Linked DNA regions of Homo sapiens. The protein of the gene in region 2 purifies or fractionates together with the protein of the main gene of each other region. This does not show direct contact. Each region holds a gene or a part of one and is shown on either strand. Other genes may lie near its edges.

The links. Proteins that work in one complex are often made in the same cells at the same time.
Region 1: the proteins of GRPR (region 2) and DSTYK purify together in Homo sapiens (affinity purification with mass spectrometry; 2 studies listed by BioGRID and IntAct, with this or other methods). This does not show direct contact.
Region 3: the proteins of GRPR (region 2) and DHRS7 purify together in Homo sapiens (affinity purification with mass spectrometry; 2 studies listed by BioGRID and IntAct, with this or other methods). This does not show direct contact.
Region 4: the proteins of GRPR (region 2) and FADS1 purify together in Homo sapiens (affinity purification with mass spectrometry; 2 studies listed by BioGRID and IntAct, with this or other methods). This does not show direct contact.

What each region holds. Positions count from the first base shown.
Region 1 is NC_000001.11:205,141,998-205,145,709, forward strand, and holds the end of DSTYK (dual serine/threonine and tyrosine protein kinase), read right to left. Parts: 3' UTR 508-3,712; downstream 1-507. UniProt on the Homo sapiens protein: Acts as a positive regulator of ERK phosphorylation downstream of fibroblast growth factor-receptor activation. Involved in the regulation of both caspase-dependent apoptosis and caspase-independent cell death.
Region 2 is NC_000023.11:16,147,553-16,150,793, reverse strand, and holds part of GRPR (gastrin-releasing peptide receptor), read right to left. Parts: intron 490-3,241; coding exon 138-489; intron 1-137. UniProt on the Homo sapiens protein: Receptor for gastrin-releasing peptide (GRP). Signals via association with G proteins that activate a phosphatidylinositol-calcium second messenger system, resulting in Akt phosphorylation. Contributes to the regulation of food intake.
Region 3 is NC_000014.9:60,155,392-60,158,905, forward strand, and holds part of DHRS7 (dehydrogenase/reductase SDR family member 7 isoform 1 precursor), read right to left. Parts: intron 762-3,514; coding exon 609-761; intron 1-608. UniProt on the Homo sapiens protein: NADPH-dependent oxidoreductase which catalyzes the reduction of a variety of compounds bearing carbonyl groups including steroids, retinoids and xenobiotics.
Region 4 is NC_000011.10:61,806,997-61,810,510, reverse strand, and holds part of FADS1 (acyl-CoA (8-3)-desaturase), read left to right. Parts: intron 1-3,514.

The DNA of each region.
Region 1 (3,712 bases), on a different chromosome or scaffold from region 2:
GGTGCCTGTCAGGCACTGCTGAGCAAGCAAATCTCAGCACTGGGGTGAGCCTAAATAGAAAATGCAAAATACACTACATGCAGATAGGCCAGCGTAAGATTATGTGCCCAGTTCCCTCACCATGTATTATAATAGAGTAGCTAGGCTCATATATGAACTCACAATGCTGCAGGTTCGTGCTTAAAAGAAGCTGGAAAAAAGCATGTCACCCAGGATAGGCTCTGGAAGATACATGACTATCATCTCACCCCTTTTCTCCACTATCCTATCTCCCATTCCCTTGCCCCACCCTTCAGTAGTGATGATGTAAAGTACCCAGAGGCCAAGAGCCATGGTGGCTGGGGAGGGCCCCTGATGGGAGAGGAACATGTTCCATCCATCTCTCCTAAGGCAAACTGAAAGACATCTGACTGAAGGTCACCAGTGGAAATGGAATGGATTAGGGAACGTCCTGTTACTATGGGTAGTGAGGTAAGGGAAAACCAAAACCAAACAGATAGAAACCTAAAACGTTAATGTGATCTTTATTATACAGCACATCTGGTATTTGTGTATCCCAACAAGTATACAGAATACTCTATAAAACCAAACCCAACCCTTCAATATTACACTAATGAAGATTAACCCAGAGTCGCATCTCTTCAAAATGCACACAATTAAGACGGTCCTGCTGTAACAATATTATGGAAAGAGCCAGGTAGCACAAGAAAGGAGAGAGGATAAAGACTGAAGTGTGTGCCAAAGTCATTGTCTTTTGTTATTGCACTTTTATTCTACACACTTAGTATCTTACACTTTTATTTAACACTGTAATAAACATTAGTCCTTTAAAACAAAGAAAAAACATTACATGAAGACAAAAGACAACAGGCTGCCCAGACCAATTTTCTTTTCAACTATCTGGGCAAGGTGGCCTCCCCAGTGCTAGATGTCCTGATGCACCTCTGAGATCACCTCAATTGGACTGGATGTTAACAAAACAGATGAAGTTAAAAATGAAACCCTTTTAGGAACAGTAGTGCTACTGGAAACCTCCAGGAGAGTTTGGAATACAAGTGTCTCAAGGCCACTCCCTCCTTACCCACTTTAACATCAAACAAGCTCTATTCATCCCACCTCCATAACTGAAGGATTAACCTTCTTTTTCTTTTTCTTTTTTTTTTTTTTGAGATGGAGTCTTGCTCTGCTGCCCAGGCTGGAGTGCAGTGGTGTGATCTTGGCTCAATGCAGCCTCTGTCTCCTGGGTTCAAGCAATTCTCCTACCTCAGCCTCCTGAGTAGCTGGGACTATAGGTGCCCGCCACCATGCCTGGCTAATTTTTTCTATTTTTAATAGAGACGGGGTTTCACCATGTTACCAGGCTGGTCTCGAACTCCTGACCTCAGGTTTTAAAAAGTGGGTTACTTGATCCAGAAAATCCAAAAGCTTTGGAAATTCCAGGAAAGCAACTACTCTTTTGGCAGTGGACTCTTCCAGGGTTGTTAATCCCACTCTGACACAATATGGATGGACTAGGGAGGCTTCCTGATTATCCAAATGGAATACCAAGCATGCCATCATCTCTCCAAAGCAAGCCCAAAGGGGGCTTTAACTTCCCAAAGTGCTACTGTAATCACCAATTCCCCTGGGCCTCCCAGTGCTAAATAATAAGCCAAAGCCAAAAAATAAAGTGTCATTCAGTGCAGTTGTCACTTTGCAGCCCTGCAACCCCGAGGCACTTCTTCCATGAGGAAGAACACTTTGTGACCCTTCTTTGGCAGCTCAAGCAAAGACACAAGAATGCATTTGAGAGCTGACAGGTACTAGTCGAGAGTTCTATGAGTCCCCTATTTCTATCTGTGGTAGTAATGCATTCTTTCCTCCACTGCTTCCTTGAATTTTAGTGTTAAAAATTAGGAGAATCTGCTGCCTAGGCTCTGTCCCCTTGAAGTTGATGGAGTCAAAAGTGACTCTCTTTGGTCTGGGAACAACCAGCACAGTCCTCCTGAAGCGCTTGCTCAGTCAATGAGCTACTCTTTGCAGAGGATCAGGGAACTAAGGTATGCCTGGGGAAACCCCACCCAAATGAGCCATGCCAGACAGCCCTTGCCATCAGCTCTCTAGGCACAGGGTCAGCCATTCCAGGGCCCCAGGCTCCACCATTTCTCCTGACTGCTCTGCAGGAAGGCCTCTCACTCATTTCTGAAACAAAATGAGAGACCAGACTTCAAGCTCTGGCCATTAAAAATGGCCAGGTCATCATTTTCATGTTGGGGTAAGCTGCCCTAATTATGTTGATTAGAAGGACAGACCACAATAAGGGTCATTCTTTCATGCCATCCTTTTTCTTCCTCCAGCCACAATCTCACCTCACCACTTGGGAACACATACAACCAAAGCTGGGAGGTAAAATCTTTAGGACTTTGGTCATGCTGAGCCCTCTATAACCCAAGTGCTGCCAGACTTCTTTGAAAACCTAGTGTCCTCCCAAGTAATATACAATACAGTACATTTCATGGCATTCCATCACTTATAATAAGAATGGATGCCAAAGAACAAAGCCAAAATTAGCTGACAATGTTATAAAACAAAAGCAAAGTATACACACTCTATACACACGTATACCTGCACTCAGCCTGCTGAGTATTTAAATAACATCCCCAAATATCCATATGTGGACTTTGGCTGGCCTAGAGACTTTCAAGAATATTTTGCACCTTTTCTCAAAATACTTTTTTTTAAAGAAAATGAACTGTAACACAACTACTCATCTCCTTACTTATATCAGTCCCTCCCTTCCACCCTCCCCACTGGGGAAAAAACTGTTGGGGAATCTGCTAGAGAACTGGTATCTGACAGCAAACTAAGCCGTGGGGTAAACTAAAAAGGGACTCTGGGTAGAGGAAAAAAATCTAACCTCCCATATGTGAATGAGAGTATGAGCTAATACTTCCCAAGAATGCTAGGAATGTGACCTTCATAATGGAAGCACAGACTTATGATTATAGTTAGAGTCAAAAGAAAACAGTCTGGAAAGGGAACTATATAAGACTTTTCCTAAAATTTCATACACAACAGACTTACAATGATTTTCCAGCAAGTAGAGAGTACTTACCCCTCCTTTCTTGACACCTGACTCCCTTGAAGCCCCATCATAGTTCCCAGAAGGACAGTAAGTTAGTGCAGAGAATAGAGTACTTGAAGTATAGCTAAATAGGTGGTAAAAATTCTGAGAATATACTGAACATCCTACCAAAACAAGGCTAAAGCCTGCAGAGCCCAAAGACACTGAGTCAGTTACTTTATCATTTGCAAGTAAAAAGGTTATTAGCACTACATGGAATTTCTGAAAGGCTCCAAGAGTTTAGGGAGCTACTATGCTCAAACATATCATGATCAGAGCCCAGGATAGCCAAAGAGTTAAAAGTTATATGAAAGACCCATTATAGACTCCATTTATACTCCATTAATATTTAAAAGATGGTCATTCTGTCATAGACAACCCTAGAAAATCCCAGCAGCAGATGTGCGACTCATCTTTGTTTTTTGTTTTTTTTTTTGTTTTTTTTTGAGATAGAGTCTCGCTCTGTTGCCCAGGCTGGAGTGCAGTGGCGTGATCTCGGCTCACCATGACCTCTGCCTCCCGGGTTCAAGTGATTCTCCTGCCTCAGCCTCCCAAGTAGCTGGGATTACTGGTGCGTGCCAGCATGCCCGGCTAATTTGCAACTCATCT
Region 2 (3,241 bases):
TTCCATTTAGCATCTGGCCACACATCACCCACCTCATCTAATTGCAGATTCAAGTGTCATGGCTTGTCAGTGGGGTCCAAAAGAAATGCAAGGGATTATATCCCCAAGGAGGAAATGAATCAATCCTGAGCACCTACCTGCTTCTTGACATGTATATTCCCTTCCACGGGAAGATTGTAAGCACTCTGGATCAGATTTTTAGCAATGAAGTAGTAGTAAACAGAGATGATCGACAGTGGAATGACGTAGAAGACCAGAAAGGAAGCCATAGAATGGATTTTGGGGTGAAGCTCATTAGAGTGTGGGTATGGGGCACAGCTAATGAAGGTCTGGTTGGTGCTTTCCTCATGGAAGGGATGGAGGTCAGAAAACACGGCCTCTGGAATGGCCAGCAGCATGGAGATGATCCAGATAAAGGCGGCTTTGAGGCAGATCTTCATCAGGGCATGAGAGGCCTGGATATCCATTGGCCGGACAATGGCTTTGTATCTAGGGCAGGAAAGAAGCATCCCCATCAGTTGCATAATATTATTCTGAATACCAGGGCCAGGACTAAGTTGAGGCAAGCGAGACACCTGGCGTACAATATTTAAGGAGGTGCTCACTTTCGGGTCCTGAGGGTGCCGACTCTGAGCTCTGTGACCCTGAGAGTGAGTGCCTCCTTAAATTTTGTACTCCAAATAGCCACTTGCCTCATTCTAATCTAGCCCTGAAGGATGCCTTCTCTTCTCTCCACAAGTACCATTCCGCTTATATTCTCTTTTTGTCTTAATTTAAAGCCAATTAAAAATAAATAAATAAAAATTGTATATATTTACTGTATACAACATGGTGTTTTAAAATATGTATACACTGTGGAATGACTAGATTGAGCTAATTAACATATACTTTACCTCACATACTTATCTTTTTAAAATGAGAACACTTAAAATCGACTCAGCAATTTTCGAGTGTGCAATACATTGTTATTAACTATAGTCACCATGTTGTACAATTCACACTCTCTCTTGATTTTAAGAATACCTCTTAGAAAAGCTGAATTTCCCTTTGTTTTTCTTCTTAAATCATAGAAATTAATAACAAGGCATGTTGCTAGTTAAAGGACACAGAGACAAGGAGGTTGGCTTTTTTTTTTTTTTTTTTTTTTTGGCAAAACCTTCATTTTGCGTATTCAGATCCACTTCAGGGAACCTTAAGTCGTTGAGTATTTTAAATATGCCTCTTTTCTTTTTCAAAGTATGCATAATAAATGGTCCCTTGAAAAAGTAATACCCAGGAGAATCCCTGTAATTTTCACATTGATTTTTCCCTTGCCTTCCTGATCTCAGCCTTATCTTCTCTTGAAGTATTTAGGTTCTTCCTGGTTTGTGAGCTATTTGTGCCCATGTCTTGGGTTGAGTATTCTGGGAAGCAGACACTGAGATGAAGTAAGAAATACAAATTTTATTGAGGAGCAATACCTGTGAAAGGAAAAAGGGGAGGAAGTAGGATAGAAAGAGGGAGCTTCTCAGGTCTACACCAGCGAGGATGACTAAACATCTTGGTTTGCCTGGAAATTTTCCAGTTTTAGCATGGTAAATCCTACATCCTGGGAAATCTCTCAGTCCAAGCAAACTGGGATAGCTGGTCATTCTACGCTAGCCCAACAGGAAGCCTAGGAACAAAGATTACCCAACGGGGAAGTCCTGCTTTGGGTGGAAATTGCCAGGCCCATGTATAATCACCTTGCTTAGTCATTGCATGGGGTCACCCCAGGAAGAATGTGATCTCAGTTACCACCTGGCTCAGTCACTGGGCAGGAACCACCCAAAAGAACATGACCACAGCTTGAAAGCTGAAGTGGACCCTGAAAGAGCTGGTAGTTGGAGGCTTCAGCTAACCACACCCCCTGCAACTGGGCAAGTCTCTTCTTCAAGGGAGGTCTGAGCAGCACATCTCCATGTCTGCACACTCCCCATACGGTCTCTAGCACAGTGAGTGACAAGACAAGGGCACCATTATCTTGCGTACACCTGTCTGAGAACCCACCAGAGGATGAGCCTTTGGTGGGCAAAGAGTATGTCTTTTTCTATGTTGGAATCTGCCAGCACTGTGATTTGCACACACTCCACAAAAGTTTGTTCAATTGAACATGAGCTACTATAATGTGGAAGTTGATATGAGTTGAGACCAACTACATGTGAGGGTGTTTATTGCTGAAAATGCTGTGTTTAAACTGGACTCTACTTATGATACTCTTTTATATCATGGACTTCAGGGAAGGGGAATACTTATTTCCACTTGTTTTCATGTTGATTAGACCTCCATTGGTTTACCACTCTTGGCTGCACCCTGACTCCTCACTCACTTTCCTCCTCCTACCAGGGAAGGGGGAATTATTCAGTGGCAAGTTTGGGAAAAAGAACCTGGCTTGTGCATTGGGCTCAGGGAGGATTATGGTTGTTTAACTGGCCCTGTCTAGAGGAATGGCAAGTGTAATATAGAAGATAAGAGAGTGTCTGCAAGTTCATTATTGCTATAGACCTGAGTTACATTCCCCAAACAGCTTTATCAGACATAGATGCAACTATTTTTATCATAGTCTCTCTGATTTCCTTATCTGGCTTTTTGTTCTCAAATTAGGTAGGGAAGAGAGGGCTATTATTTATTAAACATCCCCAAACCCCAAAATTCCAGAACAATACTACAGTCCTGCTTCAATGTACCTGTATTTGCTTTATTTTTAAACAAATACAAATAAAAATAAAAATTTAAAATAAAGTTCTATTTTCTTTTGGATCTTCTTTATTCATTAGCCATTTTAAACATTTTCCTAGCTTAGAATGTAGGCAAGAAATTGGTATCTTTAATTAAAGGCATGAGAACATCTTCAGCCAAAGATGCATATGGCTAAAGATATCGCTAATAAATTTGTTAGAGATAAAATGATAACTAAGACTTCTATCTGCATTTTCTGGCAGATAGCAGTCATAATTACACTAACTCTCTGAGTAAAGGTGATTCACTCAGTCAGAAACCAGAGTAAATGGCTTACGTCCTTCTCTTTTAGGAATCTTGTCTTCCTAGGTGCAAAATACCATGGGAACTATGCTCTTTCTTTTAAATTCACAACTTTTAAAATATAAAATATAGTATAAAGCATTTATAGTTTTACTAGAAAATTAATTTGAATCTAAATCTAATTAAGCCTCTAGATTTATGTGCCAGTCTTCAGGAAATATGGTGATAGAAGAACCTGCTA
Region 3 (3,514 bases), on a different chromosome or scaffold from region 2:
TGAGCCAAGATCACACCATTGTACTCCAGCCTGGGCAACAAAGTGAGACTTCATCTCAAAAAGAAAAAAGTAAACATAACTACACCAAAATTCAAACAAAAATATTAACACTGTTGCCCTTTATGTGAATATGAAAGTATTACCTCAAGTTGTATTTTTTAAAGCTAATTCCATTCCTGTTCTTTTATCCTATATAATAAGTCTTATCCCATATGATTTTAATATCTGATACTTTAATAAAATGAGTAAGGATTCTTCCTAATTTCTATGATCAGATACATGTATGTCATGGATAAGAACCCAACTGTTTTTTCTCTAAGACAAAAATCTAAGATACTTGGTCACTAAAAATCCACCAGCATTTTATATAATTGTTGGTCACTCCCTAATGCCAAGAGTCAGTGCAAAAAAAGCATAGAAAGGTGGCAGAAAAGAAGAAAAAGGCGAGGGCAGCCAATTAAGGCAAAAAGGAGAGGAACTGAGATGAAGCATGTAGAACATTTGGAGCCGGGGGGAAATCTCACTCCTCTCTAAAAGTCCCAAAACTGTATTTGAGTTTGGACTGATTTATTTCTAGGAAGCACCGCTGCTATTTCAGATCCGCTTACCTAGGCATCTTCTTTTCACCCTTTCCAGCTCATGCACTCTTCTGGCTGACAGCACAAGAGAAACTCCTAGTTTAGACAACTGGTAAGCCAGCTCCTCACCAATTCCACTCGAGGCTCCAGTCACCCACACCACCATATCAGTCAGCTCCCATTCTATGGAAGGAATGTAAATGGAAGGAAGAAAATAAGCAATGAATTACGCTCATAAATCCAAGATTAGAAAAAAAAAAGAAAGCCTTAAACAATACCACTAAATATGAAGGCATGATGTATAGAGTTAAAATTTGAAATATTCTAAGAAAGCATCTCCTTCTTAACTAAAAAAAAAAAAAAGCATTAATACAAATCATACTAGTAACAGTTATCAACACAGTATTTGTATATTACAGAACCTTCATGACTTTTCCAGACTTTACTTCAAGGTAAGCCTTATAACCTCATGGTTTCACTCTAAGGCTCTATTTAACACAAACAGGTAAGATAAATATGATAGATAAGATAAACAGGCTAAGTAAATACAAAAATCACTGTCTGGACTCACTTTTCCTTAGCCATTAAATGAGGCATTCAGATTAGATGATGGCTGAAGGTCACATCCAGTTTTTAATTCTATTATTCTAATATTTTGCAATGGAGGTTGATGAAGAATCTAAATATACCAAGTTCTGTGCTGTTGATGGAAACATCCTAGATTTTTAAAGTAGTATTTTCCCCATTTGCCAATAATGCCTGATGCCTATCAGCTCAAGGTCATTTTGTAAAAATGTTCCCCAGATGCCTGAGCTTTCATCTTAGGAGAATATAGTAATTCACCCAAGAACAAATGCATATTACAGAGAGATGAAATATTGTACTCTGCTTCTCCAATTATGTTCCTCTTAAAAGACTACAAATGTTACAGTACTAAAGCAATGACAAATGGTTTATTCTTTTCTCCAATGAAAAACTTATTAGCACTTCAGGAGATGATATTCACTGTCTCTCTGAACCCGTAAAGTCACTGTTATGCAAAGTTCCTGGGTGACTTATTTACTAAAATATATGTTATTTATCAAAAATATCAAATATCGTATCACTTAACATCACATTTCCGATTTTAGATCAGAAAAGTTAAAATCAGGAAATGATTGTACTGTTTTAAACAGCTCTAAATCCTAACTGTGATGTTAACAGTACCATCCCTGGAGACTGCCAGGGTTCAAATGCCAGCTCCATCACACACAGCACTGAAATGCTCCCAGGTGAGAACTTGGTGCCTTAATTTTCCACAACTGGAAATGTGATGAATAAGAACACATCCTTCACAGGATTGTTGAGAAATGAGTTAAAACATGGAAAGCACTCAGGGCAGTATCTAGTACATACTCAGTGTTTAATAAACGTCAATTATAATTATTGCTCAAGTTTTTTAACAGATGGACTTTACTACAGCAAAACATAGAACAGTCACTTAATAACGTATGTCTCCTAACTTCTCCAGCCAGGAAAACAGAGTTACCAATTCTAATGGCTTAACGTTTTTACATTACTTCCTATGTACTTAGCACATTGTCTACTAAAAGCCTCACCAGAACTGTATGGAAAGGTATTATTATCTCAGTTTTACAGAAAAGGTAACTGAGGTTTACAGAGATTAATTTGTCCCACTAGACCATAGATTCCATTAAGGGTAGGACCCTGTCTACCTTGTTCATTGCTGTGGCCTCAGTGCTTAGCAAAGACTGGAATATTGAAAAGGCTCCATAAATAACTACTGAATAAACACCCAAGAACCCTGGCAGAGCCGGGATATAAGCCCAGGTATATCTAGCTCCAAAGCCCACACTGTCCACTATTTCATGATATACACATTTACATATGATCAATATTTTAAAACCCAACTGTTTCTTAGACATTCAAGAAAATACCACTTGTCCTTAAGAAAAAGGTTCCATGTAAATATCTCAACTAAGGCCAGGTACGGTGGCTCACATCTGTAATCCCAGCACTTTGGGAGGCCAAGGCGGGCAGATCACTTGAGGCCAGGAGTTCGAGACCAGCCTGGCCAACATGATGGAACCTGTTCTCTATGAAAAATACAAAAATTAGCCAGGTGTGGTGGCGCATCGTTGTAACCCCAACTACTCAGGAGGCTGAGGTGCAAGAATTGCTTGAACCTGGGAGGCAGAGGTTGCAGTGAGCCAAGATTGCTCCACTGCACTCCAGCATGGGTGACAGAGTGAGACTCTGTCGGAAAAAAAAAAAAAAAAAAAAAAATCTCAACTAAGGATGGAAACATCCCAAATACTATGTCTGGGCTACAATGCTTTCCTGTCATATAACGTACTTTTGTGAAAAGGCACAATTGGGCCACCTTCCTATAGGACTTTATCAAGAACAACATAACATCTATTCAGATAATCATTTATTCATTCATTGACTACTTGTTGTTCCCAAGTTCTGCAATCATCACACTCTAGAGTGAATATCATTTGTTTTAGAAACACAGGATTTACTAACTAGTGTCGAGCTAACAAAGACCTCTTGATATTTACACACATAAGCAAATATTTAAAGCTGATGGTGTAAACTTTTAATACAATCACAATTCTGGCCTCTTCCTCCCACCCTGAAGAAACTTTTTTATTTAGCACCGTTTGTTTCCCGATTCCACAGAATCTGGTATACATAATGGCCTCCCTTTAAGAGCCCCTGAAAGTAGATTCTTAAGAGTTGAAAGGAAAGTGATAGTTCAACCCCCACTCCAGTTTGAGAATTCTCTTCTCAAGCCCTTGACCCATCTCTAATTCCCTCACAGGATGAGGAAGCTAATTATCTCTGAAGGCTTCAGCTCCTTTTTTGGGAAAGTCTAATCATTCCAGGGATCTTTTTTATACTGATATGATAAGCTTTTAAATGCTATCAAC
Region 4 (3,514 bases), on a different chromosome or scaffold from region 2:
CATTTTGCAAAGGATCCAGCGGATGACCAGAAGGATCCAAATGATGAGATAGCCTATCCTTGAAGGTGCTGATGGCACCTCCTGGAGGTGCTTTTTTGACACTCTTGCCCCAGGCAAGTATTCCCCTTGCACTTTGTATTTCTCTCCCACACTTAGGTATCCTTCTTGTCACAGTCTTCTCTGTCCAGGGCTGGACTGTCTTACTCTTCTTTCATGTCCAATATCTGGAACATTCATTCACTGAGTACTTCTTCCCACCCTGCTGATCCCCAGCCTGATTTCCTGGGTGGTCAGCGTTGGGTTTGAGATGTCGTCTGAAGTTGTAAGCAGAAATAATGTAGCTGCTGAAGGAATAATGCCTGGGGGTGGAGATCTGGTGAGCTTTTAGTGAGCATTAGGCAATGGAAGGTTCTAAAAGGCCAGCAGAATTCTTTGAAAAGTTCATTTAAAGCCCTTTGTCCCAAGGCTGTAGGCTGCAGAGTTCTTCCAGGTCCACCTCCTCCACTTTGTGACATTTCAGCTTGCGAGGAATTAAATTGTCGTTAAAACACATTTCAGTTCTAGGCATGAGTTCAAGGTAGCCTGGCGTTCCTCTCGCCCCTGGCCATGAGAACTTTGAAAGGGCTTTGGCAGCACTGGTTGGCCTGGCATGAGGAGCTCATAGCTTGAGGCTCATGCCCCACCTGTCCATAATGTTCTTATTTTCCCATCATGAGCATGGACTTGGGTTTGTTACATGTCCGATACCATTATGGTCAGTACTATGCAGATGACGAAGCAGCCCTGTCCCCCGTCTGACTCCCATGGCTGCTTCAAGGGCAGTGTGGTTATTTGCTGGGCAGTGGCATGGGGCTTGTGCATTTCTACTGTCACTACAGAGGGTTTAAAAAAAAGACATGGGCAGGTTAAGTGGAAGGGAACAGTCTCACACCACTACCTTTATTGCTTCTTGGTACTTGGGTTTTCAGGAAATTCCTATCAGCAGACATCAAAAACAGAGAATGAAGGGACGCAGTTGGCATGTGCCTGTGGTCCCAGCTACTTGGGAGGCTGAGGTGGGAGCATCGCTTGAGCCCAGGAGGTGAAGGCTGCAGTGAGTATGATCACGCCACTGCACTCCAGCCTGGGTAACAGCGCAACCCTGTGTGTAAAAATAATAATTTTTTAAAAAGATTAAAACCAAAAAAAAATTGTAAACAGAGTTCAACGTAACTTACAGATTAAAAACAGTAAAATATGACAGAAACTGAGAGGTAGTCATGATCAGATATGGCCTCCTTCGGGTGCCGACATCTGAACTGAGACCTGAATGATGAAAAGGGCCAACACTGCAAAAATTCAGGGAAGGAACATTTGGAACAGAGAGAACAGTCAAGTACAGAGGCTCCCGGATGTTCAGGGACAGTAAGCAATGAGAGAATGAGAAGACCAGAAAACTAGGGAGGGGCCAGATCATGTAGGGCCTTAGAAAGCCATGGTAAGGGTGTGGTAAGAAGTTTGGGTTTTATTCCAATAGCAATGGGGAGTCACAGGAGGGTTTCTGGTGGGTACAGCAATCTGCTTTGCACTTTAAAAGGCTTGCTCTGGCTGGAGGTGGAGAGGATGAATTATAGAGGGTAGGTATAATCACAGATATAACCTCAGTGAGGCGGCTGGAGCGAGTCCAGACCAGACCACGGAGGAGCAGGTGAAGCCAATGGATTTGGGATATGTTTTGGAGGCAGTGTAAGCAACGCTTGCTGAGGACCTGGATGTGGTGGTGAGAATCACCCCATCTCGAGCAACATTAACTGAGGAAAAAATTGAAAAAGGGGCGCCCTTGCTTGGGGGCTTCCTATTGTGGAACTGTTATGGAAAGGAGCCCCATCCATTGCTTCCTCCTTGAATGGCAAATGCCTTTATGATCCCTATAACTTGTCCCATTATGTTTAGACCCTTGGTGGTCAGAAGGGTTCTATTTAGGGCAGTGTCCCCTGCCCCTCCTTGTCCTCCAAAAATTTTGGGAGGCACTGACGTGGATGTCATGGGGTCAGCACAGGCATCAACATCCCCAGAGGGATGGAACCAAGCAGCCTATTGCCCAGGCATTCACTAACAGGCAGCCCATCCTCAGCCTCATAGCTGGCCGGGGAGAAGAAAGGCTATTTTGGGTCCCAGATCTTTTTTTTTTTTTTTGAGACAGAGTCTCGCTCTGTCACCCAGGCTGAAGTGCAATGGTGCGGTCTCAGCTCACTACAACCTCCGCCTCCCGAGTTCAAGAGATTCTCCTGCCTCAGCCTCCTGAGTAGCTGGGACTACAGGTGCGTACCACCAAGCCTGGCTAATTTTTGTGCTTTTAGTAGGGACGTGGTTTCACCATGTTGCCCAGGTTGGTCTCAAACTCCTGGGCTCATGCAGTCCGCCTACCTCAGCCTCCCAAAGTGCTGGGATTACAGGCATGAGCCACTGCACCCGGTCTCTGTTTACAAATTTATCACCAGCTTCATCCCCTAAGGTTATAAGCTCCATGAGGGTGGGAAGTCTGTATTGTTCACCTCTGTATCCTAAGCATCTAGAACATAGCCCGGCACACAGTAGGTGCTGAAGAACTTGAATCTGTTAATGTAGAAAGGATGTTTCATCTAGCTGAAGTGTCTTGTACAGAATAAACTCTCAATAAATGAACTGTGGACACATGGAAGGGTGAGCTAGAGCTCTGCTCAGGGGTTGAGTGCTCCTCTTGTGCCCTTGTGGTTGTCTGGTTACCTGAACTAATTGGAGTGCGATGCAGACATAGTCATGGAGTGAGACAGCAGAACTTTGCTGTCTTGTTTGTGAGCCCACATCAGGGGTTCTAGACTGGCTGGTTGACATGGTGGCCCCAGCCTGTCTCTTCAGCAGCTCGGCTTATAAAAAATAACCACCACCTACTGGGGAAAACTGCTGGAACCTTCAGATTGCCAAATTGTTCTTGGTGTCTTTTCCAGAAATATTTGCCAAACTCGAATTAGCCTTCAGGAGATTTGATAAAGCTCATGTTTAAGTCAAGAGACCAAAAGATTTTGATGGGGAGAATTAGGGGCTGGATATAGAGGGAATACTTAACCTGTATAGGGGCAGATATGGTTGTCCATGGAGATTCTGGTGTGAAAAAGTACGATGGCGGCCGGGCGCACTGCCTCACACCTGTAATCCCAGCACTCTGGGAGGCTGAGGTGGGTGGATCACCTGAGGTTGGGAGTTCAAGACCAGCCTGAACAACATGGAGAAACCCCATCTCTACTAAAAATACAAAATTAGCTGGGCGTGGAGGCACATGCCTGTAATCCTAGCTACTTGGGAGGCTGAGGCAGGAGAATCGCTTGAACCCAGGGAGGCAGAAGTTGTGGTAAGCCAAGATCGTGCCATTGCACTCCAGCCTGGGCAACAAGAGCGAGACTCCGTCTAAAAAATAAACAAAAAAGTACGATGGGAGAAAGGGGAGAGGGCAGTGGGGCCTGGAAACCTCATGACAAAGAGAATGAACACAAGAGGG